Homo sapiens: one gene and its partners. The protein of the gene in region 1 purifies or fractionates together with the protein of each later gene. This does not show direct contact. Each region holds a gene or a part of one and is shown in the gene's direction. Other genes may lie near its edges.

Region 1 (7,415 bases):
AAAAATTTTCGTATTTCACTTTACATAATATGTTCTCCCATATTTAGGGATCATACAATTGTATTGTCTTCAAAACACACACACACACACATACACACACACACACACACACACACACACCCCTTCCAAGAAAGCTGATCCTTCAGAAAATAAATCTTATTTTTAAGCACTTGGGTTTTCAGGCCAGAAAATTAATAAATCCTAAACCTGACCCATTTTTGTAACAGCTAAAAAGGAGAAGAAAAAGCTAGTTAAATTTTGTGTGGATCCATTTATCTCTTAAAATATGCCAAAGCAATTTGAGGTGGGGGTGGAAACAGGTATTTATCTCTCATGCGTGATTCTCTCTTTATATTTCTATCTGTTGGGAAAAGGGTAAAGAACTATTCTTGGTCATTATTGATGTATTGTGTTGCCACTTTGTATGGTGCCTGCTGTGCTTTATCCCGAGGCATAGCAGTAATCGTTACTATCTTGACTCTTTCCTTCATCACAAGAGAGTAAATATGAAGTCTGAATGTCGTTCCTCACCCCCAAATTGTTTAACTCTGCTTCCAAACTAGTTTAAGAAATGCAAAATGGGAAGAGCTAGCTTTTCTTAGATACATTTCTTCCTTTTTTATTCTTTCTTGGGAGACGTTAAGTATAAAAGGGAAAAAGTCAGTTCCTTCTTCTCTCTCTTTCTCTTTGGGTGACAGCAATGCTCACTTAGTAATTATAAACTGGAAATAGGAGAGTAGCTTGAGCAGGTTATGATATATCTGCCCAATGTGTTTCATTCCTTCAAACATAAACTTTGAGAGTAAAAGAGATTTTTATAATTTAAATGCCAACGACAGGAATGGCCTCATGTTTTAACTTTCAAATAATAAATGGGGAGTTGGTATTTGGGCAGAGTTTGCATTTTACTAATCCTATATACTTTGAGCTTAGTTTTTAGAATTGTGTCAAATACATCAACATATCAGGATTATAGTGCCAAAAATAGTTAAAGTGCCTTGGTCCTCCCTCTGTAGGCAGCAAATTGAAACTAACATGGGACCATGCCATCCTTCTAGCATAATGGAGAAGTCTGAACTGAGGAGTATCTTTGATGAAAGACATTTAGGACCCTAGAAACTAAATCTTGTCACCAAGACTTTATAGTAAAGTAGTAGCAAAATTATTTTTAAAAGACTTTCTTCCTTTTACTACCCATTTCCTCTCTTGGGAAAGCTGATGAGCAAATTATCCAAGACTCATTTCTTTATTAGGCAAAGTCAGAATATTTCCCCTCTGAAAATCTGAATTATGCCCTCATTCTTTTTCAAGAAATATCTCAAAGAGCAAATAGAATTAAACATGACACTTGATTGTCTGATTATTTGGCATGTATAAAATTATCATGTGGCTTAATGTGCCTTAAGTGAAAATTTAAACTTAGACCTGAAACCTTTACAGTTGGATGTAGCGTTGAGCTTTTGCATGTTTTCTGTATAATAAACCACTTTTGTTTTGTTTGTTTTGTCTTTTAACCTACACCTTTATCATTACTCTAACAGATTTAGGGCTTCTCTTTCTCTACAGCTAAGTAAGGGAATATGTGCAATTATGAGACATACAAAAAAGGAAAGGGAAAGGACTTTCTAAGTAGCAAATCTGTGCCATGAAGTAGATGTGGCGTGAAGATACAGAGCCTGAGGATAGTAATTTTCCCTGAGCCACGCACACAGGCTTTTATTTCATGCCTTTTCTCTTTCTGTGCCGTCACCTTTGAGAAAAACGATTGCACCTTCTCCAAGTCTGCCTTTTTAACAGCTACAGTTAAGTTGGCAAGACTTCCCCAGCTCTGAATATAGCCATTTGCCGACTCCGGCCTCTTTGCGAGACTGACTCAAATCTGTGATCTTCTGTTCAGCATACACATCAGCAAAGTGAGAAGATGAGCACTAAATATAGGCTCTATTAACTTTACTTTTAGATTTACTGCCTTCAAAAAGTGCCTATTCTGAGCAACATAAACGTTATTCCTTACATATGTATGTACACACGGTACCCAGAGTCGTACTGTGCAGCCTTCAAAAACATACCATCAGAAAGAGTAGGTGCTGAGATAAGGAAACTTTGCCAAATGAAAGAAAGTCACTCACTTCCAATATCCCCTCTCAAGCGGCTACCGTGAAACGGGCTGCAAACACATTCCCTGAGCATCCCTTGCTGATACAGCTTCTTTATATTTATATCCTACTGGATGGTAGCATATTGCTAAGGTTTCCTGTACTCTGCTTCAAGGGAATGTAAGCTTTATGGCATTGAAACATTTAGGGAAAAAAAAGATGTTTAAGAGAATTAATAGAGCCGTAGTCTGTATTAGGATGTGTGTCATATGTGTGTTCTATAAACTAAGCATCGGTGGGTTTAGAGTGTTAAAGTGTCAGCACATTCCTTCTCCTTTTGTCTCTCAGGCTAACATGAGAGAAAATAGAAAAGTCTTGGCTGTGGGGATTGGAAGCTCAGGGGGCCAAATGTCCTTGCCAGATCCTTAGAGCATTACTTTGACTCCTAAAAATAGTAGTGTATGTTATTTGATGGCTTTTGTTTCCATAGTTCCATCACTGACAAAACTGTCAATACTGTTGATGGAGCAGCAGCATAGCCTAGAGTGATGCATTCTTACCCAGAGGTGGCAATAGGAGAGGGTCCATGTAAATAGGACGAGGTAGACAGTGCATGATTGTAGGAGAAGGGTTGAAGGGAGGACATGATTCCAAAAAAGATCGTTCTCAATGTGTCGTCTGACTCAACCAGCTGGCAGATTACACTTGCCAAGTCGTTCCCTTTCCTTCTAAGTCAGTTGGCTCCATATTCACTTGAATATGCCTCTGTTTGGGCAAAGCAAGATACCTCCACTTAACCTTTATCCAAGGAAGCTCTTGGTGTCCTCTTGGTCATAAAGTTGTCTCCTACCTAACCCAGTTTTACCAAATGGAAGTAAAAGGGGACAAACTATGGAAGATGGACTCCATGCCATTGCAGTCAGCCACCATTCTCTTTTCCATATAAGGAGCCCCATTACATAAGCTACGGGTGAGGTTGGAACAGCTATGTTTCATAATTTCAAGAGTGTGACCACCCTGCTCTAGTCATCATCATTGGATGAATCCAGTTGACTCTTTGGCAAAAGGGTGATACTTTTCACTAAAAATGCCTACTCTTCCTGTTGATGTTCCTTTTCTGTTTTTACCTTGTCCAATTTCCACACTAGTCATTTTTTTTATTTTTTAGAGGATCAGATTTTAGCGCTGGAAAATGAGTTCAAAAATTTCAGTGTAATGTCATAAGGATGTTGGGATACAGAGATTTTTTTTTTCCTTGGAAACAAATGGACTGGGAAGAAACACAGCATGGCTTTGCTCTGAGTTTCAATCTGATGATTATGACCATGGAAGATAGTCTTATGTAAAGGTTAAATGGTGTTTACAAGTGGATAGATAAGGCGGAGATGGTGAGAAGCCGGGTTTTCTCTATGCTAAATGTGTCTACTAAGAGCAGCACTTCCTACTAGCTAAGCACAATCATAGCCCCACCGTGATGAGCTGCTAGTCTGAATAACATTCCCTGACTTAGGGAAAGGCACACAAAAACATATAAAGAATATGTCTATTTTCATATGTGTGATACTGACAGAGCCATGGTATTCCTAAAATATAGGTTTCTCTTTTTTCTTGTATTCTTAGCAAATTGCATTTATTCACTACATTACAAACCATCACTGATGTATCCAAAATAGCACACATAGTTCAGTATGAAAATAAGAGAATAAAATCTGTTATAAGCAAGTGATTTAGGTATTTTCTTTTGTGTTTATGCATTATCTGACTATATTAAAACCTGTTTTTCTATTTACCTTCTATCAGTTTTCTCTACCAATTATGTTTTTTCAATGCTCTATAAGAATGAATATGGAAATTATATTTCTTTTTTCTGTAAAAGAGTTGCAACTACTTTATTATATTTAGAAATCCAATAAACTTCTTATTACATTTACTTGCCTATGTGTGGAATTCTTTTTGAGTTGGATAATCTCTGTTTCCTTTTCTTCTAACCCCCTTTACTGTGTGACTCATTTTTTACATCATTTGCTTTCCATATGGTCTTCTGAGAAACGGAATATCTCTCATAGCAAATATGGTGCCACAAGAGTATGAAAGCACCCACTCTCTTCCACTGTTAGCACAGAAGAACTTAAGGTCAGAGGTGTTCTAAAATTATTTGACCACTCTGTGTCTTGACCTTGCAAAGACATTTTCATTTTTAAAGCTGGATCCAAGTAAATGGGTCCCTTAGGGTGGGGTTGGGGTTCTCCATTTTCATCACAAACAAGTGGCTGACTTGTTCATACTTTTATTCCATCTGTATTACGCATGCTTTTCAAACATTGAGAATTTCCTCTGTACTAGGCATCTTGAGCAATACAGCTATCAATGACATATAGTTCCTTTCAATGAGTTTATAGTCTAGTTAAGCTGATAGATATGGATACAAATACCTATGGGGAAAGGAAAGGAATAACCACAAACAGGAAAAAGTAACTTAGCATGTTCCAGACTTTTCACTGTCACTCCATTTTCAATATCCTTGTGATTATCTTACCCTCATTTTATAGATGAAAATTCCAAGAGTGAGGAAAAAAGTTAATAACCCAAGATCAGCATTCATTTGCTGAGCCTTTTTTTTTTTCATTTTTTAAAGTAGCAGTTCTACAGAAGAACCAAGACTCCTGATACCCAGTCTATTGATGCTTAATAAGAGTGATTAGCACTACAGCATACGTGAAACTCACCCCACGAAAGTCAGAAAAGATTATCTGTTCTCTTTTCTACTTATCTCTCCAACATCACATTTCTGCCTACTAGTGCTGGGACATCTGAGAACTACAGGTGGGAAGACTCTGTACTAAAGACCACTATTTTAAACTGCCATACACAAGATCAATCTTTGAACAAACAAAGGGTAGGTATATCAATGGGACTTGTGGTACTTGTAATTTCTTACCAGAAAGTTGTAAACAAAAGAATACATGAGATGTAACCTTGTCTTCTCTTTATTCTTCTACAAAGAAGCTGTAAGAGGTAATCTTATCTTCCTTCTCCCTGTATTTCTCAAATTACTCTGTTTTTTCACCTACCCTTCTGCTCTGTTTTCTAATAGTATACATTCATTTGTTCTATTCAGAGTGTAAGAGCTAGAAGGGCCTTTAGAGATTATTTTACTCTGACTTTGTGAAGAAATACTAAGTCTCAGAGATATGAAAAGACTTATCCAAAGTCATAAAATATTTTAATGACAGGGCTGGATCTTGAGTCCTGGCCTCCTGACTCTCTGTCCATTGCTGTATACAAATGATTTGAATAATGCAGAAGAGAGTGGAAGACGCATTCTATTTATAATTTACATTTCAAGGAAAAAGAAATTTCAAATGAAAAAAAAACTGAGTGTTTAATGTCCAGATACCCTAATTAATAGAAATTCTAAAAATCATGTTGCAGGAAGAGAGAAAGCTGAGAAGGAATGAATATCAACAAGGCAACAGGAAGGCTGAGCAAAGAAGGTAGGCAACCATATAGTCAATTCTAAACAGACTGGAATAGCAAACAATTATTTTCTAAGTTGAGGGACTTAAAAAAGTTGAGCTAAAATACTGGACGATAGTGGAATGTAGGCCCAATGACTAGAGTTAAATCTTTGTAAGATTTTTGTTGATTTTGGAGAAGACTGGTGCTGTTGATTATCTTTACATTTTTAAGTTATGTATATATGTAAATATTTCAATGGCTGCCATCTAAAGAAAACAAATATATAACTGCAAAATCAGTAGAAAGGAGAAATTGAATTGGGGAAAAGCAGAAATGAAACAATTTTTTTTTTTTTGAGTTGGAGTGTGCCCTTGTCGCCCAGGCTGGAATGCAATGGTACCATCCCAGCTCACTGCAACTTCCGCCTCCTGGGTTCAAGCGATTCTTCTGCCTCAGCCTCCCAAGTAGCTGGGCTTACAGGCACCCGCCACTACCCCCGGCTGATTTTTATATTTTTAGTAGAGACGGGGTTTCGCCATGTTGGCCAGGCTAGTCTCGAACTCCTGACCACAGGTGATCCGCCCACCTCGGCCTCCCAAAGTGCTGGGATTACAGGCGTGAGCCATCACACCCAACCCATAAAAATTCAAAGATCCACCCTCAGAGAAGGATATTTTAATAACACCTTCTTCAGTAACTATTCAAGTAATGAGTTAAAAACAAAAAATCACTAAAGATATAGAAGATTTTAACATTATTAAAAGGCTTGATTTTAATGGATATATAAGAATCTCCATACTTATTGGATAAAAAATAAGCTTTTAAAATATATACATTATATATATATATACATTATATATATATACATTATATATATATATATACATCATATATATATATATAAAGTGCATATGAGAAATCTACTAAAACTGACCTTCTAGGCCAATTATCTGCAAAATTCAAAGCATCTTTCACACAAATTGAATATTTTCATCATGTCAACATTTAACGCAAATTAAAAACCATGGGTAATTTTAAAAATTTACATTTGGAAATTTTAAAACATCCCTAAAATGGCTTACTTCAAAATAGAAATCATAATCATAAGAACTGAACAATAATGAAAATTCTATGTAGTAAAACTTGTAGGAGTCAGCTCAAATGGTTCCAAGAGGGAAATGTAAATCCTTAAATGATTACATTAAAAATAAAGTGAAAATTAATGAGCTACTCATCCAACTCACGTTAGTAAAAGAACAGAATTAAGATTCAAAATATAAGGAGGGCATAATTAAAATATGAAAAAAATGAAACTAATGGTATAGAAAACAAGAATATAATAGAATATCAAAACAGTCAAAATTTGGCACTTTGAAAAAGCGTTAGAAATTGCAAATTTCTGGGAAGGTTTATCAAGAAAAAAAGGCATGAAAAATATTTATAGATAACAGCAGGTATTAGAAACATAACAGAATAGCATGAGCAATTTCATGTGATTAATTTGAAAATGTAGATGAAATAAAAATGTTCCTCTTTAAAAATTGTAACCTAACAAAAAGTGAGTAAAAAAAAATAGACAACATGAATAACCCAATAAAGTTAAATTGTATTAGTGGTTAAAATATTCCCAATAAATAATTACTTGAAGGGAGCATGAGAATGGCTTTTGGGTTAACATTTTAGGTTGGTAACATTCTGCTTCACGATCTGAGTGCTGGTTATATGATTGTGTTTAGTGTTTGAAAATGTATTGAGCAATACATTTATGATTTGTGCATTTTATTTATATACTACTTCAGTGGATAAAATATTTTCTTTATCGAAAACTACCTAGTATCTTGATTCTAAATGTGAATTCTA
Region 2 (7,907 bases), on another chromosome or scaffold:
CATATATTATAGTCTCAGGGTAGGAGGGTGGTCTCCGCCCTAGTTGAACTTCTAAGGCCAAAGAGAATTTTCACCACAAACACATTTGGCTGTGGTAATGTTAGAGGTTTTAAACAAATATGTAAAGATTATCTGATCATTAATAGAACAATTTTTAGATTTTGTGATGTTTGAATATATTTGCATTTGGAATCAAACCAGAATGCAGCATGATCCTTGTAGGCATGTGGCTATTAAAATACACTGAAGATTTTTCCAGAAACAAAATTTTTTTTTCTCAGCAATAAAAATATTCAAATTTTGGGTAAGGTAATGTTTGATTATTTGGATTTTGACCTTTGTGTTATATATTTGTACCTGTGTGTGTGTATGTATGTAACCTCACTTCTAATTTAGTGTTATTGATGGTAATATTTTTTCCTTTCTTTATCAGCTTCAAATAGGGACTGTTAATTTCAGAGCGTTTAAGGAATGGCAAAACACATTTAGTGCTGGTGTGAGTCTGTAGTGTGTTTGGTTTGCTGACTATCAGACTTATTACAGATAAGTCCACAGTTATAAGCTTTGTAGAGCTTAAGTTGCATCAGTGTTCTTTACCCTTGCTACTCAAATTGTGGTATATAGCATCACCTGGGAGTTTATTAGAAATGCATGATCTCAGGCTCAATCCAGAGCTGCTGAATCAAAATCTGCAATTTTAACAAGTTATCTAGATGAAAGGAATGTTCAATAAATCTTGAGATGCACTACTTTGGTTGGTAACAGTTGAAGAACACTGAGGTAATGCACAAACCGGTATAAAAATTTATAGCATCATTTATTTTAATCTGAGGTGATCTTATGCTGATTATCCAGTCTGATGAAACTGAGGCCCAGAAAGGTAAGTGCCTTGCATAAGGTCACACATACCTAGATTTATAACCCAGATTCCAACTCATTCCAGTGCTTTTCTTTTGCTGGTTACTGTCAGAGCTTGTTATATTAAAAACGGACTAAAATTCATGAATGACAATTAGGTGTTCATTCAATAACAAACGTCTATTGGGTACTGTACAGGCAGCCTAACAATCCTGTGTGTCCCTGCTAACTGCTCCTGTTTATCATGGTGGCTATTAACCCACCACCTTTCCTCTTTATTTTTTTTGAGGCGGGGTCTCACTGTCACCTAGGCTGGAGTGCAGTGGCGTGATCTCTGCTCACTGCATCTTCCGCCTCCCGGGTTCAAGCGGTTCTCCTGCCTCAGCCTCCAGAGTAGCTAGGATTACAGGTGCCTGCCACCAAGCCTGGCTAATTTTTGTATTTTTAGTAGACAGGGTTTCACCATTTTGGCCAGACTGGTCTTGAACTCCTGACCTCCCTGAACTCCACCCACCTTGGCCTCCCAAAGTGCTGGGATTACAGGAGTGAGCCCGGCCCCGTCTTTACTTTTTTTTTTTTTTTTTTTTTGAGATGGAGTTCTGCTCTTTTTGCCCAGGCTGGAGTGCAGTGGCGCGATCTCAATTCACTGCAACCTCCGCCTCCTGGGTTCAAGTGATTCTCCTGCCTCAGCCTCCTGAGTAGCTGGGATTACCGGCATGCACCGCCATGCCCAGCTAATTTTGTATTTTTAGTAGAGACGGGGTTTCTCCATGTTTGTCAGGCTGGTCTCGAACTCTCGACCTCAGGTGATCCCCCTGCCTCAGCCTCCCAAAGTGCTGGGATTACAGGCTTGAGCCACCACGCCCGGCCCCCTCTTTACTCTTTACTGGATAAAGTTCCCTTCTGCTTCATAGAGGAAATGAAATACATTGAGTGGGAACTTCATTGCTTTCTGTTCTGTTTCACCTGCAAACATGAAGACCTCTATCTGTCCATCTCTAATGATATTCTGAGTTTTTTCTCCTTACGGGCAATATTTCCTTCATGTGTTTGCTAGGGCCGCCACAACAAAATACCTTATATTGGGTAGCTTAAACAAGAGAATTTTTTTTCTCACAGTTCTGGAGAGTGGAAGTCTAAGATCAAGGTGCAGATAAGATTGGTTTCCTGTAAGACCTCCATCCTTGGCTTGCAGATGGCCACCTTCTTGCTGCCTTTTCTCGTGGTCATCCTGTGTGTACATGCACCTCTGCTGTATCTTTCTGTTTTCTTTTTTTTTCTTTTCTTTTTTTTTTTTTTTTTGAGACGGAGCCTCGCTCTTGTCTCCCAGGCTGGAGTGCAGTGGCCCGCTCTCAGGTCACTGCAACCTCCGCCTTCCCGGTTCAAGCGATTCTCCTGCCTCAGCCTCCTGAGTAGTTGGGATTACAGGCGCTCACCACCACGCCCGGCTAATTTTTATATTTTTAGTAGAGACGGGTTTCACCATGTTGTCCAGGCTGGTCTCAAACTCCTGACCTCAGGTGATCTGCCCGCCTCAGCCTCCCAAAGTGCTGGGATTACAGGCGTGAGCCACTGCACTGGCCTGCTGTTTCTTTTTCTTATAATGGCATCAGTTATATTGGTTTAGGGCCTTACCCTAACAACCTCATCTTATCTTAATCACCTTAAAAACTTTATCTCCAAATACTGAGGGTTCGGGGGTTAGGGCTTCAACATGAATTTTTAAGGAACACAGTTCAATCCATAACATTCAGTTACTCCTTTTTCAACTAGTACTAACTTAACAAGGATTTAAGCATACCCAAGTCTCTTATTATCTTTTTTTTTTTTTATTTTTTTTTTTTGAGACAGAGTACTCACTCTGTTTCTCAGGCTTGAGTGCAGTGGTGCTATCTTGGCTCACTGCAACTTCTGCCTCCCAGGCTCAAGCGATCCCTCCACCTCAGCCTCTCTGGTGGCTGGGACCACAGGTGAGGCGCAGGCCACCATGCTTGGCTAATTTTTGAATTTTTTTTTGTAGAGATGGGGTTTTGCCACATTGCCCAGGCTTGTCTCAAACTCCTGGGTTCAAGCGATCCACTGGCCTTGGCCTCCTGAAGTGTATTGGAATTATATGGGTGAGCCACCGTGCCTGGCCTCAAATCAAGTCTTATCTGAAATATACGCTCCTTACCTTAGATTCTTAGATTCCTCTTCAGCTTTATCTATAATTATTTTTCTTAGTTTTTTTTTTTCTCCTTTTTTTAAGAGACAAGGTCTCTTGTTACCTAGGCTGGCCTCAAACTTCAGGGCTCAAGTGATCCTGCCACTTCAATCTCATGAGTAGCTGGTACTACTTGTGTGTGCCACCATGCCCAGCTTATTTCCTTTAAGTTTCTTGAAAGAATTCTCTATATTCATTTTCTTCACCTCCTTATTGGTTAATTTTTTTTTTTTTTTTTTTTTTTTTTGGTATTTTGAAGGCTGACAGTCCATAGCAGTCACTGAATTTGATGTAGTGGTGATCACCATTGATATCTTTGTTGCTAAATCTAATGGAATCTGTTTAATCATTTGCCATTTTAACTACTTGTTCGTTCTTGAAATTTTCTTCTTATACTTCTGGGACACCATATTTTCCTTATTTCCTTCTTAGGTTTTAGCCAGTCTTTTGTTGGTTATTTTTCTCTTTTCTCTGACCACTTTAGATGTTTGACTCTGAGGCACTACCCTGCTCTCTTCTGAAAACCTTCAGATAAAAATCCAAACTACGTAGTTTAGGAAATAAGGACTTCAATGCACACTCTTCATGAATGGTCTCATTTGTGACTTCAACTATTGCCTCTATTTTGATGACTCCCAAATCTGGCTTTTTAGCACAGGTCTCTCTTCAACGCTGACATATGTAGTTGTCTTAAAATACTTGACATTCATGTCAAAAACGTTGTGTATTTCAACCTTCCTGACATTGTTTTCCTCCTATGAGCCATGCAGGCACCAATCAGTTGGAAAAGCCCAAAATCTTAATTCTTTCCCCTTATTAACTTATGTGTAACCCCTCCTCCAACTCTCCAACTATCTAATTATTTTATTTCCAACTCTCCAACTAGCCATTATTTATTTATTTATTTCTGAGACAGAATTTCACTCGTAGCCCAGGCTAAAGTGCAATGGTGCAATCTCGTCTCACCGCAACCTCTGCCTCCCAAGTTCGAGTGATTCTCCTGCTGCAGCTTTCCGAGTAGCTGGGATTACAGGCATGCACTACCATGCCCACGCCTGCCTAGTTTTTTTTTTTTTTTCTTTGAGAGAGAGTTTCACTCTTATTGACCAAGCTGGAGTGCAGTGGCACCATCTCGGCTCACTGCGACCTCCGCCTTCTGGGTTCAAGTGATTCTTCTGCCTCAGCCTCCTGAGTAGCTGGGATTACAGACGTGCGCCACCATGCCTGGCTAATTTTGTATTTTTAGTAGAGTATGTTGGTCAGGCTGATCTCAAACTCCTGACCTCAGGTGATCCACCTGCCTCGGCCTTCTAAAGTATTGGGATTACAGGCATGAGCCACTGCACCCAGCCAACACATATCATATAGTTTAAAATGTAAGTGTTTCCAGTACAGTAAGCTATTAACAGTATAGTGCTATGAACAGCATTCATATAGTTAATAGCATTATGCAGAAAAATTAAGGATATCGGGAACATAGAGATTCTTGGTTGAGGAGTGAGCCCTTTTAGATTGGCAGTTAGTGGAGACCTCTTTAAATAGAGGACAACTTGAGCAGAATGGAATGCTGTCAAAGAGCAAGACATGCTTTTATCTAGAGACCAGAGCTTTCCAGCCAGAGGGAACAAATTGTACAAGGGATAAGATACATTTTATACATATTTCACTAAAGATGTTCACGTATTGTCTCCAAGTCTCTGTTAATATAGATAACTAGGTCATGCAGACAACCTAGTCCTTTGTCTCCTTATTCTTATATGCCTGTGCAGGGGTTTCTGTGATTATAGCACCAGGTGTGAAACTGCTGGGTCATAGAAGATACAGTCACGAGTTGCTTAAGGCTGGGATACATCCTGAGAAATGGGTCGTTAGGCAATTTTGTTGTTCTATGAACATCATATGAACAAACCTAGATGGTACAGCCTATTATACACTTGGGCTATGTGGTATATAGCTTATTGTATCTAGGCTATAAGCCTGTACAGCATGTTACTGCACTGAATACTGTAAGCAGTTGTCACAAAATGGTAAGTATTTGTGTGTTTAAACATGTCTAAACTTAGAAAGGTACTGTAAAAATACAGTGTAGAAGTAAAAAATGGTACATCTGTACAGGGCACTTACCTCGAATGGAGCTTGGAGGACTGGAAATTGGTTTGGATGAATCAGTGAGTGAGTGGTGAGTGAAAGTGAAGGCCTAGGGCATTATTGTACACTTAGGCTAAAATAAATTTATTAAGAAATTTTTTTCTTCAATAATCTTAGCTTATTGTAACTTTTAGTTTATAAACTTTTTGTCTCTGTTGCAGTAACACTTAGCTTAAAACACAAATACATTGTGTAGTTCTACGTTGTTTAAAACAGACGCAAACACACACATTAACTCAGGTACACACAAGGTCAGGATCATCAATATCTCTGTCTTCCACCTCCACATCTTGTCTCACTGGAAGGTCTTCGGGGGCAATAACATTCATGGAGCTGTCATCTTCTATGATAGCAATGACTTCTTCTGAATTATCTCCTGAAGGACCTGTCTGAGGCTGTTTTACAGTTAACTTTTTTTTTTAATAGGAGTAGTACATTGTAAAATTATGATAAGAAGTATAGTAGTGGGGCTTGGTGGCTCACTTCTGTAATCCCAGGGTTTAGGGAAGCTGAGGTGGGAGGATTGCTTGAGGTCTGGGGTTTGAAATCAGCCAGGGCAACATAGCCAGACCCCATCTCTACAAAAAGTAAAAAAATTAGCATGGCATGATGGCTCATCCCTGTAGTCCCAAGTCTCAACTATTCAGGAGGCTGAGGTGGAATGACTGCTTGAGCCCAAGAGTTCAACGTTGTAGTGAATTATGATGCCGGCATTGCTCTCTACCTCAGGTGACAGAGATCGTAACTCTTAAAAAAAGTAGGCTGGGCGTGGTGGCTCACGCCTGTAATCTTAGCACTTCGGGAGGCCAAGGCGGGTGGATCACGGGGTCAGGAGATTGAGACCAGCCTGGCCAACATGGTGATACCCTGTTTCTACTAAAAAAATACAAAAATTAGCCAGGCGTGGTGGCACACACCTGTAATCCCAGCTACTTGGGAGGCTGAGGCAGGAGAATTGCTTGAACCCGGGCGATGGAGGTTTCAGTGAGCCAAGATCGTACCACTGCACTCCAGCCTGGGCAACAAGAGTGAAGCTCCGTCTCAAAAAAAAAAAAAAAAAAAGTATAATGTAGTAAATGCATAAACCAGTAACATAGTTGCTTATTATCACTTTCAAGTGTTATGTACTGTACCTAATTGTATGTGCTCTGCTTTTATACAAATGGCAGTGCAGTAGGTTAGTTTACACCAGCATCACCACTAACGTGTGAGTAATGTGATTTACTACGACTTAGGATGGCTATGATGTCACTATGTGATAGGAATTTTAAAGCTCCATTAAAATCTTACGGGATCACTGTCGTATATATGTGGTCCATATCTGACTGAAACTTTTTTTTTTTTTTTTTGAGACAGGGTCTCACTCTGTCACCCAGGCTGGAGTGCAGTGGCACGATCGTGGCTCACTGCAGCCTTGACCTCCTGGGCTCAGGTGATTCTCCCATCTCAGCCTCCTGAGTAGCTGGGACTACAGGTGTGCCCCACCATGCCCAGCTAACTTTTTGTTTTTTTAGTAGTGATGGGGTTTCTCCATGTTGCCCAGGCTGGTCTTGAACTCCTGCACTCTAAGTGATCCACCCGCCTCAGCCTTCCAAAGTGTTGGATTACAGGCGTGAGCCGCCATTTTTATGTGGTGTGTGACCCTCTGTGTGTCCTGGTCATAGAATACACAAAATATATACTCAATTTCATTAGAGACAGCTAGATAGCTCTCCAAAGTTGTATTAATAGATATTCCCAGTAGCAGTGTTTAAGAGTTTCTGTTTCCATGCATTCTTGCCAGCATTGAATATTTTTGGACTTTGTAATTTTTGCTAGTCTGATCATAAAGTAGTTTTTCACTGTTTGGATTTTAAATCCCTGATAACCAGTGAGATAGCATCTCTTCTGATATTAATTAAACATTTAGCTCTTCTTTTCTATATATTTTCTGCTTACACCCTTTGTTCACTTTTCTTATATATTTGTCTTGTTGATTCACAAGGGTTCCTTGTATATTCTGTATAATACACCTTTGTTTTAGTTATGTATTAATAACATTTCTTCTCTTAATCTTCACCTTGTTAACCTTGTGTAGGGTATCTTCAATGACTCCATCAATTTCAGTCTTCAGTTCTGATGTAGTATAATTCATTAGGCAGATAGGCTGTGAACTTGATGTATTTTTGTTCTTTCTCAAGTCTAAAGCTAAAAATTCCCAGTTAATTTCACTTGAGATATTAATGGACAGCACTGAACAAAAGTAAAAGTGTTTAATCTTTCGGGAGTACTGGGTGGGGACAGGAGACTTACATTTAAAGTTCTAGAAATGTCACTAATGAGCCTGTGACCTTAGAGAAGTCAGTTTATCTCCTTATCTTTTGGCCACAGTGTCTTGGTCAGTAAAACAAAATACTTAAACTGTGTAGAGAACTGATATGGGTGGCTCCAAGGTGATAGGAAAATTATATTTATTTACTTGTTAACTTATATGGACTCACAACTGAGAGAAAAATTATTTTAATGATAAAATGTAGAATAGTGATTAACTGTGGGATTATTACTTGGCATACAGCACATGCATGTTTGAACAAATGGGTTTTTATAAATACAATGACAGGCTGAGCTCTTTATAGCAAGAATGAGATTCTTATAAGATACAGCTTTATAGACAGTGATGTCTTCAACCAGTAAATGGAAACTACCAATCGAAGATGTC
Region 3 (7,907 bases), on another chromosome or scaffold:
ATTTTTTTAGGAACTGCCACGCTCTCCAATACCACTTTATTTACAAAAACAGGAGGTGGGCTGTGGTTTGCTGACCCTGGGGACATTCAGATTGTCACAAAGACCAGGATCAGTCCTGGCATTTAGTAGTCTGGAGCCTGGGGCCCTAATGCCCCAAATGCTGATGGAATCGAGTTGTACTAGCCTTGGGGGGACCTCTGGTTGGGTGTTTGGAGAGAGCTGCGTCCCTGTGGGAGCCGGCCTGGCTCTCCCGGCCTCAGCAGCTGTAGTGGTCAGCTTAGGGCCACCTTAGCCAAGCACCACAGACTACTGGCTTTAAAAACAGAAATGTATTTTCTCACGGCTCTGGAGGCTAGAAGTTTGAGATCAGGGTGTGGGCAGGGCTGGTTTCTCCTGAGCCCCCCTCTCCTTGGCTTGCAGAAGGCATTTTTTGTGTCCTCCCTCCATGTTGTCCCTCTGTGGGTGTCTGTGTCCTCATCTCTTCTTCTTATCAGGACGCCAGTCAGATTGCATTAGGGCCCACCCTAAGGACCTCATTTTACCTTAATGATCTCTTTAAAGATCCCATCTCCAAAAACAGTCACATTCCAAGGTACTGGGGGTCAGAACATCAACCCATGCATTTTGGGGGGCACGGTTCAGTCCCTAACATCTGGCCTCTCTCTGCTCCCCTCTGTGGCACAGACTTCTGCCAGCTGTCTGGCATGCACCTGCTGGTGGGCCGGTACCTGGAGGCGGGGGCTGCGGGACTGCGGTGGCGGGCGGCACAGCTCATCGGCACGTGCAGTCAGAACGTGGCAGCCATCCAGGAGCAGGTGCTGGGCCTGGGTGCCCTGCGTAAGCTGCTGCGGCTGCTGGACCGCGACGCCTGCGACACGGTGCGCGTCAAGGCCCTCTTCGCCATCTCCTGTGAGTGTCCGGGTGGGGCTGGGGACAGGGGTGCTGGCGGTGGGGGGGGGTGCCGGGTGGGCCCCCGGGATCTGCTGGGGCAGAGGGAGAGGCATCTCCTTCCCTCGTTTGTTCCCATGCTTGTTGGACCCCTGCACGGCTGAGTGCTGCGGGCAGAGTGAGTGGCGCACTCGGCCAAACCCCCTGCTAGCCAGGCAGCAGATGTGACCACTTCCCGGGGAGACCACCTGGCCCTCAGCGTGAGCGCTTTGCACACAGCAGTTTTTCAGCTGGGCACTGTTCACACTGGCGCTGGTTCACTCTCTCGGGGGCCGTCCTGTGCACTACAGGACATTGAGCAGCATCTGGTGGGTGGCCTCCAGGCCATGGAGAGACACTATCACCCCACCTGCCAGCGCACAAATGCCCCTAGATGTAGAAAGCCCCTTGGTCAGAACCCCTGCTGTACATGAATTCTTCTTCTTCTTTTTTTTTTCATTTAACCTATATAGAGACAAGACTTGCTTTGCTACCCAGGCTAGTCTTGAACTCCTAGCCTCAAGGGATCCTCCCGCCTTGGCCTCTGAAAGTGTTGAGGTTACAGGTGTGATCCACCATGTCCAGCCACAAATTCTTTTTATCCTAATGGCCTGTGAAGTAGGGACCGTTTGCATCCTCATTTGACAGGGGAAGAAACTGAGGTGTGGGCAGAGGGACACGGCCAGGTTTCTGCAGCTCCATAGGGCAGAGCTGGCCAGGACTCCCCCAAATACTGCCGCCTGGGACACAGGCACCAGGTCGGGCACAGGGACGGGACAAAAACCAACATCTGTGGGGCAGTTTCTCCATGCCAGGTGTTGACTCGCTGAATCCTTATGCACACCTGCTGAAGTTGGGCCCACTGTGTCTCCTCCACACGGGAGGGATCGGGCCAGGGGGTCTGGAGAGGACACACAGAGCCAGGATCCCAGCCTGGTGGAGCTCTTCGTATGTGCTGGATGCCTGCCTGCATGTGCTATACTAGCGCCCCAACTGGACTCTTTCCTTTTATTTTCTCTAACAGCTTTATTGAGATGTAATTCATAGGCCATACAATTCATCCTTTTAAAGTGTATAACTTAGTACTCTTGGCCAGGCGTGGTGGCTCACATCTGGAATCCTAACACTTTGGGAGGCCGAGGCGGGAGAATTGCTCGAGCCCAGGAGTTTGAGACCAGCCTGGGCAACATAGGGAAACCCCTGTCTCTACAAAAATTAAAAAATTAGCTGGACGTGGTGGTGCGTGACTGTACCTCCATCTACTCAGGAGACTGAAGTGGTGGGATTGCCTGAGCCTGGGAAGTTGAGGCTGCAGTGAGCCATGATTGCATCTCCAGCCTGCGTGACAGAGCAAGACCTGTCTGAAAACAAACACAAAAACCAGAAAAACAACGTAGTACTTCTTAGTGTATTCAGTGCTGTGCAGCCATCATCACTCTCTAATTTTAGATGTGATCAGACGCGTTCGGGGTGGTATGGCTATCGGCAGTCACTATCTAATTTTGGAACATTTTCTTCTTTTCTTTCTTTTTTTTTTTTTTGAGACAGAGTCTCGCTCTTGTCACCCAGGCTGGAGCGCAATGGCGCGATCTCGGCTCACTACAACCTCCTCCTCCCAGGTTCAAGCAGTTCTGCCTCAGCCTCTCAAGTAGCTGGGATTACAGGCGCCCGCCACCGCGCCCGGCTAATTTTTGTATTTTTAGTAGAGACGGGGTTTCACCCTGTTGGCCAGGCTGGTCTCAACCTCCTGACCTCAGGTGATCCACCCGCCTCAGCCTCCCAAAGTGTTGGGATTACAGGCGTGAGCCACTGCGCCCGGCCAAAATTTCAGAACATCTTCATCCTCTCCCCCAAGCAGAAATTCTGTACCCGTTAAGCAATCACTCGGCGTCCGTCCTCTCCCGCAGCCCCTGCAACATGAATCTACTTACTGCCTCTAAGGATTTCCCTCTCCGGGACATTTGTACAAACGGAATCCCACACCGTGAGGCCTTTTCTGCCTGGCTCCTTTCATATGCTGCAAGGTCCCCGAGTGGTGGCGGGTGGCAGTGCTGTGTTCCTTCCCGCGGCTGAATGTGTCCTGTTGCGTGGGTCCACCGTGCCCTGCCTCTTCCTCCGCCTGTCTGCTGACAGTCCCTGGTTTCCTTGTATCTCTGGGCTCTCGTGCTCCTGTGGACATAGCTGCGCAGGTGTTTTTATGGACATTTGTTTTCCGTTCTCTTGGGTGTATACCTAGCAGTGGAGTTGCTGGGTCATATCGTAACTCTACATTTAATCTGTTCGAGGTTGGCTTTTTTTTTTTTCTTTTTTTGTTTCTTGAGACGGAGTCTCGCTCTGTGGCCCAGGCTGGAGTGCAGTGGCGCAATCTCGGCTCACTGCAACCTCCACCTCCCAGGTTCAAGGGATTCCCCTGCCTCAGCCTCCCAAGTACCTGGGTTTACAGGCACATGCCACCATGCCCAGCTAATTTTTTTTGTACTTTTAGTACAGAGAGACGGGGTTTCACCCTGTTGGCCAGTCTGGTCTCAAACCCCCGACCTCAGGTGAGCACCTCAGCCTCCCTAAGTGCTGGGATTATAGGCATGAGCCACTGTGCCTGGCCTGAGGTTGGCTATTTTTTAATTCCAGCAGCCTATCTGGTCATTGAAATGGGGGCTGTGAGGGGGGTCCAACACCCTCTTTCTCTCCCTCACCCCCATGTATCCTGAGTCCTGGAATCAGTGTTGTGTTCCTGGCAGATGGTGGCCCCAGCCATGCAGAGGCTGGGAGGAGAACAGGGAGGGTTTGGGTAGGAGGAGATTCCGGAAGAAGGAAGCATTCTGATGAGGCAAGGAAAGGGGCACTTGGAAAGTCACAGCCAAAACTAGGGTGACAGGGACAGACAGACATGGGGCAGCTCGGCCACAAAGGGCAGAGAGAAGGACATGGTGTCCCGAGGGCCAGAGCAGGGTAGAGAGGGGCTGGCAGAGTTTTCTTCTAATAGCTTGCATTAAAAAAGAAGTCTTTAGGTCATCTTGGTGGTTCACACCTGGTCCCACCTACCTGGGAGGCTGAGGAGGGAGGATCATCTGAGCCTGGGAGGCAGAGGCTGCAGTCAGCTGAGATCGTGCCACTGCACTCCAGCCTGGGTGACAGAGTGAGACCCTGTCTAAAAAAAAAAAAAGTCATTACATATTTTTAAAAATCTGTGAGACAGTCACATCGTTCACCAGGTACAAAAGAGTACATAGCAAATGGTCCCTGTCCCCAAACCTGGTCCCCATTCCAGAGAAAACCACTGTTATACCTGTTTCTGCTTCCAGAGATTTTAATAAATCTGTAAGAACAAATGTGGGTGTGTGTGGTGTGTGTGTGATGTGTGTGTGTAGTGGGTGTGTGGCGCGTGTGTAGGGTGTGTATGGTGTGTATGTGGGGTGTTTGGCGTGTCGTGTGTTAGTGTAGCGTGTACATGGGTTGTGTGGTGTGTGGTATATATGTGGAGGTGTGTGTGGTGTGTGTGTTGCATGTGTATGTGTGTGGGATGTGTGTGCTGGGGGGATGTATGTATATGTGTGGGGTATGTGGGGTGCATATGAGGTGTGTATGTGTGGTGCGTATGTGTGGTGTGTGGATGTGCATGGCGTGTGTGGGATGTGTGGATGTGGTGTGTGTATACGGGGTGTGTGGTGTGTGCTTATGTGGAGTGTGTCGTGTGTGGTATGTGTGCACACAGACACACGGATTAATCTCGTTTCCTCAGATGTGCACGGCTGGCACAGGCCATCCTGACTGTGGCGCACCTTGACCTGCCTCTGTCCTTTTTTCTTAAGCAACAGTAGCTTATCTTTCCCCTTCCTGCGGGTGAGGAATGCAGCAGTGGCCCCTGCTGAGGAGGGCGGCTTCTGGCTTTGCGTCTTCATGAGGTTGCATGAGGTTGCATGAGGTTGTGGTCAGCCGTCAGCCGGGCCTCGTTCCCTGAAGGTCTCATTGCACTAAGCCCTGTGCGCTGCACCTCATTGATCCCTCACAATCCCCCTCTGAGGAAGGGGTGCTAGAGATGGGCTTCCACCATGGCTCGCCCCGGGGCTAGCAGAGTTTTGCTGGCAGTTGGCAGGAAGCTCGGGCTGCGTGAGCGGCCTCACCACGTGGTGGTCGGCTTCCCCAGCGAAAGTTGTGCACGATGCAGGGCAAGAGCTCTGGGAGCTTGGATGCCATTCTTTTTTTTGCTCGGGGGTAAAATTCACATGAAAATGTTAAAGTATACCATTCAGTGGCATCTGTCCTTTTTTTTGGTGGCTGCAGGGTATGCCATTGTGTGGCTGTCCAGTACCATTACTGGAGTTCCGTGCTGGGAGCCATTTGCAGGGTACGTCCCCTCAGCTCCTGCTGCCCGAGGCGGTGGTGCCACTGCCCTTCCCAGGACAGGAGGGGATGGACTCGCTCGCCCTCTGTGGAGCCACTCCAAAGTGGTTCCTTGTTACAGTCTACCAGAGTGGCACATTTATTACAATCGATGAACCTACATGGACACCTCATTGTCACCCAGAGTCCATAGTTGACACTGGGGCGCACTCTTGATGCTGTATGTACTATGGGTTTGGACAACTGTATCATGACATGGATCCATACTGTAGTATTCTACAGAGGAATCTCGCTGCCCTACAAATCCTCTGTGCTCCCGCTAGTCATCCCACCCCTGAGCTTTTTACTGTCTCCATAGTTTTGCCTTTTCCAGAATGTCATATGCTTGGAACCATGCAATCTGCAGCCTTTTCCGACTGGCTTCTTTGGCTTAGTAATCTGCTTTTAAGGTTCTTCCATGTCTTTTCTTGGCTTGATAGCTCATTTCTTTTTAGCGCTGAATAAGCGTAACTTTTTTAAGGGAGATGTGTGGGCTGCAGTGATGACTTTGGCTTTCTTTCCAAAAATGACGGCAGCCATACTGTGATCCCTGCCCCCAACTGCTGCACAGAGAAGAGGGTGAATGCGGCGAGGGTGGGTGGAAGGTGGGCGGTGAGCTGGGGGGTTATGGTGATAACCTAGGCAAGAGATCAAGGTTGTGGTAGGGAGCAGTGGTTCTCAAACAGGGACAATCGTGTCCTCCACAGGACATTTAGACAAATGTCTGGAGACATTTTTAGTTGTCGCAGCTGGGAGAGAGGGACTATTGGCATCTACTGGGTAGAGGCCAGGGATGCTGCTCAACATCCTGCAATGCACAGGACGGGCCTCCCAACCCAGAATGATCTGGCCCCAGATACCAACCGTGCCCAGGTGGAGAAACCCTGGCGTAAAGGGGACAGGTCTCTCCTGGGTACATTTTGAAGGTAGAGCTGACAGGCCTTGCTTACAGATTGAATGAGAGGAGTCTTTGTGTTTTCCAGTCCATGCATGCCTGTTCTTTTTTCTTTCTTTAATTAAATAACATCTGGCTGGGCGTGGTGACTCATGCCTATAATCTCAACATTTTGGGAGGCCGAGACAGGTGGATCACTTGAAGCCAGGAGCTCAAGACCAGCCTGGCCAACATGGTGACACCCTGTCTCTACTAAAAATACCAAAAAATTAGCCAGGCATGGTGGGGCATGCCTGTAATCTCGGCTACTCGGTAGGTTGAGGCATAAAAATTGCTTGAACCCGAGAGACGTATGTCGCAGTGAGCCAACTGCCACTGCACTCCAGCCTGGGCGACAGAGCGAGACTCTGTCTCAAAAATGAAATAAAATAAACTAAAATAAATAAATATGTAACCCAATATGTCCAAACTATTATAATTTCAATGTGTAATTAATATGGACTATTAATGAGACACTGTATTTTTTGTCATGCTAAGTCTTCAAAACCTAGTGTGTGCATTTTACAAATGAAGCACATCGCAACATGCTGAGTTTTCAGGGGTAGTGTGGAGTGCGCCAGAGCAACAACGTTGTGTGTGTTTTTCTTTTTTTGGTTTTCTTTTTGTGTGTGTGTGAGATGGAGTTTCGCTCTTTTTGCTCAGGCTGGAGTGTAATGGCGCAATCTCGGCTCACTGCAACCTCCACCTCCCGGGTTCAAATGATTCTCCTGCCTCAGCCTCCCTAGTAGCTGGGATTACAGACGCACGCCACCACGCCCAGCTAATTTTGTATTTTTAGTAGAGACGGGGTTTCACCATGTTGGTCAGGCTGGTCTCGAACTCCTGACCTCAAGTGATCTGCCCACCTCGGCCTCCCAAAGTGCTGGGATTACAGGCATGAGCCACCGCGCCCAGCCAACGTTGTGTTTAATGGAAAATATTTTACACTGCTTCAGTTTTTCACCTTAAGTTTAAATGAATGGAACTTAAATGAAATGAACAACTCTTTTCCTTAGTTGCACTGGCCACATATCAGGTGTTTAGTGGCCACAAGCTACTAGCAGCTTCTGTCCTTCTTGGCCAGCACAGGCCTAGAGCCTACCCAGGAGGGGGCACCTTACTGGAGGTGCACTCCAAAGGTCAGTTCTCATCCTGCTGGGAGTCCTTCCAGAGTTCTCATTGCCCTCTGGATAAAGGTCATGCATGCTGTGTAGCCTGGCTCTTTAGGCCTCAGTTTCCTCATCTGTAAAATAGAATTCTGAAAGCACACACTTCCAGGATAATTGTGAGGATTAAAAGATGTTGCGGACTGGGGACGGTGGCTCACGCCTGTAATCCCAGCACCTTGGGAGGCTGAGGCAGGTGGATTATGAGGTCTGGAGTTCAATACCAGCCTGGCCAACATGGCAAAACCCTGTCTCTACTCAAAATACAAAAATTAGCTGGGTGTAGTGGTGCATACCTGTAATCCCAGCTACTCGGGAGTCTGAGGCAGGAGAATAGCTTGAGCCTGGGAAGCAGAGGTTGCAGTGAGCCAAAATGGTGCCACTGCACTCTAGCCTGGATGATAGAGCAAGACTCTGTCTCAAAAAAAAAAAAAAGAGAGAGATGACACAGCCGGGCGCAATGGCTCATGCCTGTAATCCCAGCACTTTGGGAGGCCCAG
Region 4 (7,907 bases), on another chromosome or scaffold:
ATAGCATATGGCATACTGCCCTAGCAGGCAGAATATATCTGTTAACTGAATCAGATATCAAGTGGAAATTTAGGACTTGGTAAATATATCCTAGGCGTTTTCCTAGGACAAATGGTCTTATGCAAGAATATGGCTTGTCAGAATGATGTTTGTGTTGGTGAAGTTTCTACCACTTCCTGTTCACTACTGTGATGCAGGATTCCTGTTCTCACAGAAATATCAAAGATCTATCTTGGGCAGATAGCATCAAGAATGTAGCTGCTGCCAGCTTGGCTTGTATCTCAGGTGCCCTGCCTGCTTCCGCAGTAACAACAAGTGAGAAAGTTATTCTAGACTTGGCTCAGTTGTCTAAAGCCCATCCAACTTTTATCCAAACTTTTTTTTTTTTTTTTTTTGAGACAGGGTGTCACTCTGTTGCCCAGGCTGTGGAGTCCAGTGGCATGATTACAGCTCTCACCGCAGCCTTGACCTTCTGGGCTCAAGCGATCCTCCTGCCTCAGCCACCCAAGTAGCTGGGACTACAGCTGTGCACCACGATGCCCAGCTAATTTTTGTTATTTGATTTTTTTTTTTTTTTTTTTTTTGTAGAGACAGGGTTTTATCATGTTGGCTCGACTGGTCTTGAACTCCTGAGCTCAAGCAGTCTGCCTGCCCGCCTCGGCCTCTCAGAGTCATGGGATAAATGGGTATGAGCCACTACGCCTGGCCCTTTTTCCGAACTCTAAAAATTTATTCAGTAAATTTTTTTTTCTAGTGCCTAAGATGTGTCAGTACCTGATCTAAGAACTGGGGGATGAATCAGGCTCAGTTCCTATCATCAAAAAACTGGGGATGCAAACAAGGAAACACATAAACATAACACAATGAAGGAAGCCAGGGGATATACCTAATGCAGCCTGGGTATCATGGTAGGCCTTCTCTTAAAGTAGTCTTGTTTCTTTTGCCAGATACAGGATAGAATAAGGGTTCTGTTTGTTAAATGTTAAGATGTTCTGGGTTTCATGAGAGTCATTGATCTTTCTGAACCTGAAAATTATTATACTATGAGGTATTTGGTAATTTTGTTTTTTATTCTGCTGGATATCTGAATCAAGTTTATGACTGATGGCCATTTTGGCTATTCTAGATTTTTTTTTATGTTGAAATATAAGGCCAATGATTTACTGCTTTTGCTCTCATAGGTTTCCTAATGAGAGGCAGCAGGGGTATAGTCATTAAGAACCTGGGCTTTAGGCCAGGTGTGGTGGTTCACACCTGTAATCCCAGTGCTTTGGGAGGCTGAGATAGGAATATTACTTGAGGCCAGGAGTTTGAGACCAGCCTGGGCAACATAGCGAGACCCTGTCTCTACAAAAAATATATATATTTTTTTAATTAGCTGGGTGTGGTAGCATGTGCCTATAGTCCCAGCTACTCAGGAGGCTGAGGTGGGAGGATCATTTGAGCCCAGAAGTTCAAGGTTATAGTGAGCTATGATCATGCCACTGCACTTCAGCCTGAACAACAGAGTGAGACCTTGTCTCGAAACAAAACAAAAAAGTTAGGGGAAACCTGGGCTTTGAGGTCAGACAGATACAAATTTGCATCTTGGTTACACCACTCTGGCTGTTCTGAGGAAAATCAAATAGAAGAAGTGGGGAATGAGGTGTGAAGTTGGTTAGGAGACTGTTATAGTAAAGGAGAGTAATAATGGTAAACATAGACGAGGATGGCAACAGAGGAAGAGAGTCATTTTTTAATGTATTTTCGAGGTAGAACTGACAGGACTGGTTTATGGATTGGATGTTGGGAGAGAGACGGGGAAGGGCAGGAAGGGACTTAAGGATGACTTCTAGGTTTTTAGCCCAAGCAATTGGGTGAATGGTAGAAACAGAAAGAGGTAGATATGGGAGCAAATAAGGGGCAGAGAATCAGTTTTGTTTGGATAAACTCAAATGCTTATTACATATGTAAGTAGAAATGTTAAGTAGGCAGTTGTATATACTAGTTAGAAGAGGCTGAACTAGAGATAAATTGGAGAATCGTCATCACATAGTTAATATTTAAAAGTGAAAGATTGAATGTAAAGACCTAGGAACTTGATATTGATAGGAAAAAGATCCAAGACTGAGTCTTGGGATATTCCACAATATTTAGAGCTTGGGAAGAAGAGGAAGATCCAACAAAGAAACTGAAAAGGCACAGTTGATGAGATAAAAGGAAAACCAGGTGAGTATATTAAGTGTTTGTAGAAGGAGGGAGAGAATAACTGTGTCGGATGCTGCAGAGAGATCAAGTAAGATGAGGACCAAGAAATGACCATTGGAATTGGCATGATAGAGGTGACCTTGACAAAATAAATATCTGAAAATAAATGGGATATAAAAATCATATATAAGTTGGGGAAAGGATGAGAGGTGACAAAGTAGAGAAAGCAAGATAACTCTTTTGAGGAGCTTTGCTGTATAGGAGAGCAGAGAAATGGAGTAATAGGTAGTAGTGAATGTGGCATTGGGAATGTTTTTAAAGGCTGGATAATGGAGTATGCTTGTGACATCCACGAGAGAAAAAAAGTGACACAGAAGAGAGACAGGATAACTGAAAGAAAGAGTATCTTTTCAGAAGCAAGAGGGGATGGGAACTAGTGCCCAAGGTTGGCCTTGATAGGAATAGATATTTCATGTATTAAACAGGCATCAAGGCAGAGTATATTATTACAAGTATTGGTGAATTTGTGGATTCATTTGGTAGTTAAAAGATGAGGTAATAGTTCTGATTGCCTCGGTTTACCATTAAAGTAAGAAATCATGTCATTATCTGAGGAGAGGGGCTTTAAAATTTTGAATGATTTTTTAAACTAAGAAATGAGATTTAAAGAAGTGCTTTCTCCTAGTGGCTTGCTTCAGGCAGTGTTTCCAGTTCACCCTGGGAATGCAGTCATTTTGCTCTGCCTTAGTTGTACTTAGGTGGACAAATGTGAGAAGACTAATTTATTCAGATAGCCTAAGCCCTGTAGCACGGCACACAAGGCCCTGGAGAAGCTGGCGCCTGCCTTCCAATCCTATTCTGTCACGCTCCCCTTTTATCTCCTCCCTGCTTCTCCTTGCACCCAGTTCTCTAAAATCATTATCCTGCCGACTTTCACATCACAGCACCTTTGTACATAATGTGCCCTCTGCCTAGAATGCTCTAACCAACCTCTTTTATTTTCTGGTTAAACTTGTTATCTATACTCCTCAGTTTAGCTGTGACCTCTGGGGAGCTTTCTCTGACCTCCTCATTCATGTTCAAGTGCTTTCTTTGAACCTTGCCTCATTATATTAACATTATATGTGTCTTTTTCTCCCTACCGAATTATGTGCTTTTTGAATACAGGCCTGGCACCTAGTATCCTCTTGATAAATATCTGCAGAACTGAAATGGCTATGATGTTTTTACTTAATTTTTACTTATAAAACCATGTAGCCAGGTGAGTAATAGTGGCAATCTCTATAGTAAGAAACACTGGTGATCACTACTTTTTATTAGGTCTCACATAATCTGTAGAATTATTTATTTGATTCCAATGATGTGATACAATAGATACTGAATAACCTTCTCTCTTCCTTTCTTTTCTTTCCCAGTGTGAAGAGTGGCCAGATTCGAAATCTGGAGTCTGCCCGTGTCTCAATGGTTGGCCAAGTCAAACAGTAGGTCTTACTCTTCCCCCTTGGTCTGGTTAGAGGCGGAAACATGGTGAGGGAATTACAGATTGCTTCTTTTGTCTTACACCAATTCTACCATTCCGGTAAATGCCTTTATTATTTTAAATAATTTTAAAGGTGAGTTCAGTTGGGACAGACATAGATTTTCTTTCGCCTGCCTTCCTTTCTCTCCTTCCTTTCCTTCCCTTTCTTTTTTTTCCTCCTCATTTAATACTGGATTACCTTAGCAAAACTCTGCGTGTTAAAAAGCAAATCCCAGAGCATAGACATTACAAATTATGTTAACCTTAGTGATAGCAGCTGAGTTTCATTCTAGTAACAGTCTCCTTCTAAGCCAAACCTGGCTGTGAGGGAATTATAATAAAAAAGCTCTGGCATAGCCTGAGTGAAAGCCAGATTCTAAGAGTGAGCTAAGATTATTTAGCCCAATTGATCTTTCCTGATAGAATTACATGGCATTCTGGGTATTGCTGTATAGTCACAAAATAAACTTTAGATGAATTGAGAAAATGTTGCCCAACAGAACAGACAGAAGTTAGATGAAAATGATAATGGCTTTGAGTGCTTACTATTTGCCAGGCACTGTGCAAGGTATTTTATATGCACTGTCTCATTTTTAAAACCTTATATTATGGAAAAATTTTGCACATATAAAAGAAGAGTGATACAGTGGATGGACCCCAGTGTTCCCATTGTCCATTTTCAATGGTTATTAACCCATAACCATGTCTCATTTGTTTCATCTGTGCCCCTATGTATTTCCCCTAGTCACAAAATATTTTGAAGCAAATTCCAAACAAATATAATTTCCTCTGCAAGATTTTCATATGATCTAAAAATAAGGGCTCTTTAAACATCATCACGATGACATTATTACACGTAAAAAAATTGGCAATTCTTTAATATCATCAAATATCTAATCAATATTTACATTTCTGATTGTCTCATAAATAATTTTTTACAATTAAAGTCAAAATCAAAATAAGTAGATAGCAATTGGTTGATCCACCTCTCATGCATCTTTTAATCTAAGGTTCCACTTCTGTCTCCCTCTTTTTTTTGATTCCTTGCAATTTATTTCTTGAGGAAACCTTGTTTGCCCCATAGAATTTCCCATGATCTGGATTTGCTGATTGAATTCTCAGGCCATAATTTAACATATTCCTTTGTTCCTTATATTCTGTGTAAATAGTTAAATCTAGAAGCTTCATCGGGTTCAGGTGTTTTGTTTGCAAGAATACTTGATAGGTGATGTTGCGTACTGCCATCAGGAAGTACATAATGTCTGGTTGTCTTTTTTTTTTTTTTTTTTGAGACAGAGTCTCACTCTGTCGCCCAGGCTGGAGTGCAGTGGCGCGATCTCAGCTCACTGCAACCTCTGCCTCCCAGGTTCAAGCAATTCTCCTGCCTCAGCCTCCTGAGTAGCTGGGACTACAGGCATGTGCCACCATGCCCGGCTAATTTTTTATATTTTTAGTAGAGGTGGGGTTTCACTGTGTTAGCCAGGATGGTCTCTATCTCCTGACCTCATGATCCGCCCACCTCGGCCTCTCAAAGTGCTGGGATTACAGACGTGAGCCACCATGCCCAGCCAATTGTCTCTTTTTTTTTAATGTCAGGAGCCGTTGATGTTTATTACCTAGATTCATTAATTCATTTGCACTATCTCATTTAATCCCTACAATACCTCTTTAAGATAAGTATTGCTTTATAGATGAGGAAATAGAAGTTCAGAGAGGTAGTTTCCCAAGATCACATAGCTAGTGGATGACATAGCTGAGATTCAAACTCCTGTGTATTTGACTTCAAGGCCTATCTTATGGTTTTATGCCTAAAAGGGCAATTTCAGTAGAAATATCAGGCAGTCAAAATGCAAGACTTTGAATAACCTGTGAGACTGCCCACTTTTCAATTCCTAAATATTTTGAGACCTCAAATTTGTCTAATCAGTAGTAAAGCATTTTACATGGCATATATGCAGATAGTTGAGTGATTTTAAAATTTTATTTCCAGTGATGTTTTCTCTTAATAAGTAAACCTATGTGTAGGAGAGTGTGTATGTGCATGTGTATTAACTGTCACATAGATAGCTGGAACTTTCCTGCCCCTTATAATCCAGGTGAAATTGCCTTGAACCTCCTAATCCACAGGCTATAGAAATTCAAAGCATATGTTTCTTTGTTACACTGTTTTTTTTTTTTTTATCACATCTATACTGTATACTACATGTGAAACTTGGCACAAGTTTCATATAAAACACCTACTTAACAAAACATTTGTGAACTTACACTTCACTGAAGGTTTGGCAGAGAAGACAGAAAGGGAGAAGTTATCATTCTTAAAAATCTACCGCTGACTTTTGAATTTATCCCAGTCTCTTTTTATCTTGCTTGTTCTCTCTCCTTTTCCTTCTCTGTCTTTGTCAAGGGCAAAATAACAGATTGTTCTCTATCATACAGAGCAAACCTTGGCACTAGCTGTTGCCCAGGCCCTTGGGATTTTTTTACCTTCAGAGCTTGTCAATGTGTTTTTTCCATCAAGTTCTCTCTAAAGGAAGTATGGTACCAGCTGTTGATATAATAATAATTTTTCTACCAAAGAATATAATAAAAAGAGATGCAATTTTTAAGAGAAAAACAACAATGATAATTGGTTGGTTCAGATGGTTTCTGTCAGCTAATTAAAAAGTGAGGCCTTTTATCATTCTGTTTGAGCCTTGTTCTACTATAAGCAGGGTTCAGCAGAAAAGCACCATGTTTTGGAGTTAGTTGAGCCTGGATTTGCATCCCAGCCTTAACCACTTATGAGTTAGGTGATGCTGGACAATTTTCTTAACTCTTCAGGGCTACTTCATAGGATTGTTATGAAGATTATATAAGATTATGCCAATAAAACTCATGCCTGAGGAAGTGGTTGCTCCCTTTCTATGGGTCAGTATTGGTGCAAGAACTGGAAACCAGCCCTTGGAGAATAGTTATACATTGGCCATGATTTTCCACAGCCCTGGAAATGCACAATTCTATCCTCCTACCAGGATGATTGTTAAGTTTTAGCTAACATTTGATTATAAAAGGCCGTAAGTATGAGTATCTCTGAGATAATTTGTGTATTGGAAAGAGGTGTGTAATAGCACTTTTTTAAAAAAACCTAGGTGTGAAGGAATTACAAGTCCAGAAGGCTCAAAATCTATAGTGGAAGGAATCATAGAGGAAGAAGAAGAAGATGAGGAAGGAAGTGAGTCTATAAGCAAGAGGAAAAAGGAAGATGACATGGAGGTGGGTAAAAACATTCATTCTTGAAAAGATGCGGTATGGAATGGTTCAAACTGTGTGTGGGTGGGAAGGGGTGATAACATTGTTCTTTTTGTTTGCCATTAGGTATTTTAGGGAGCCAAGACACTATCATAAGAGATACTTAGCTTAACTATAAGATGTAAAGCACTGTTGATAGCTCTGACCAATTGGAACATAAAACTTACGCTATATACCCTCCCCTAAAACAGACTGCTTTCTCACCTGTTCTTCTGTTCCTGTGTTTCCTCCCATGAGAAAAATTCCATTTCCTACCAGTCTACTCTAAGCTCATCCAGATCTTTTTTTTTTTTTTTTTTTTTGAGACAGAGTCTTGCTCAGTCACCCAGGCTGGAGTACAATGGCGCGATCTCGGCTCACTGCAAGCTCCGCCTCCCGGGTTCACGCCATTCTCCTGCCTCAGCCTCCCATGTAGCTGGGACTACAGGCGCCCGCCACCACACCCAGCTAATTTTTTTTTGTTATTTTTAGTAGAGACGGGGTTTCACCGGGTTAGCCAGGATGGTCTCAATCTCCTGACCTCGTGATCCACCCGCCTTGGCCTCCCAAAGTGCTGGGATTACAGGCGTGAGCCACCATGCCCGGCCTAAGCTCATGCAGATTTTACCCTGTCCATCTGTCTTTCAAAGTTTTTCTCCTTGAGGAAGCTCTTTAATTTTCTTTCCATTTTTTTTTTTTTTTTTTTCGTTTGAGACTGGGTTTTGCTATGTTGCCCAGGCTGAATTCCTTGGCTCACGTGATCATCCCACCTCAGCCTCCCCAGTAGCTGTAGCTGGGACTACAGGTGCGTGCCACCACACCCAACTTCCCTGGGGAAGCTTTCTGACCTCAATTAGTATCACTGTCTTTCCAACACAGCACTGAAAGTCTGTATGACACACCTTAGCACTTTTTTTTTGAAGTTGTACATATT

The links.
Region 2: the proteins of LPP (region 1) and IPO11 fractionate together in Homo sapiens (co-fractionation; one large-scale study listed by BioGRID). This does not show direct contact.
Region 3: the proteins of LPP (region 1) and HSPBP1 fractionate together in Homo sapiens (co-fractionation; one large-scale study listed by BioGRID). This does not show direct contact.
Region 4: the proteins of LPP (region 1) and PPME1 fractionate together in Homo sapiens (co-fractionation; one large-scale study listed by BioGRID). This does not show direct contact.

The regions. Positions count from the first base shown.
Region 1 is NC_000003.12:188,886,646-188,894,060, forward strand, and holds the end of LPP (lipoma-preferred partner), read left to right. Parts: 3' UTR 1-4,026; downstream 4,027-7,415. UniProt on the Homo sapiens protein: May play a structural role at sites of cell adhesion in maintaining cell shape and motility. In addition to these structural functions, it may also be implicated in signaling events and activation of gene transcription.
Region 2 is NC_000005.10:62,414,040-62,421,946, forward strand, and holds part of IPO11 (importin-11), read left to right. Parts: intron 1-4,844; exon of another isoform or gene 4,845-4,974; coding exon of another isoform or gene 4,975-5,088; intron 5,089-7,907. UniProt on the Homo sapiens protein: Functions in nuclear protein import as nuclear transport receptor. Serves as receptor for nuclear localization signals (NLS) in cargo substrates.
Region 3 is NC_000019.10:55,267,400-55,275,306, reverse strand, and holds part of HSPBP1 (hsp70-binding protein 1), read left to right. Parts: intron 1-684; coding exon 685-909; intron 910-7,907. UniProt on the Homo sapiens protein: Inhibits HSPA1A chaperone activity by changing the conformation of the ATP-binding domain of HSPA1A and interfering with ATP binding. Interferes with ubiquitination mediated by STUB1 and inhibits chaperone-assisted degradation of immature CFTR.
Region 4 is NC_000011.10:74,232,299-74,240,205, forward strand, and holds part of PPME1 (protein phosphatase methylesterase 1), read left to right. Parts: intron 1-3,602; coding exon 3,603-3,668; intron 3,669-6,834; coding exon 6,835-6,958; intron 6,959-7,907. UniProt on the Homo sapiens protein: Demethylates proteins that have been reversibly carboxymethylated. Demethylates PPP2CB (in vitro) and PPP2CA. Binding to PPP2CA displaces the manganese ion and inactivates the enzyme.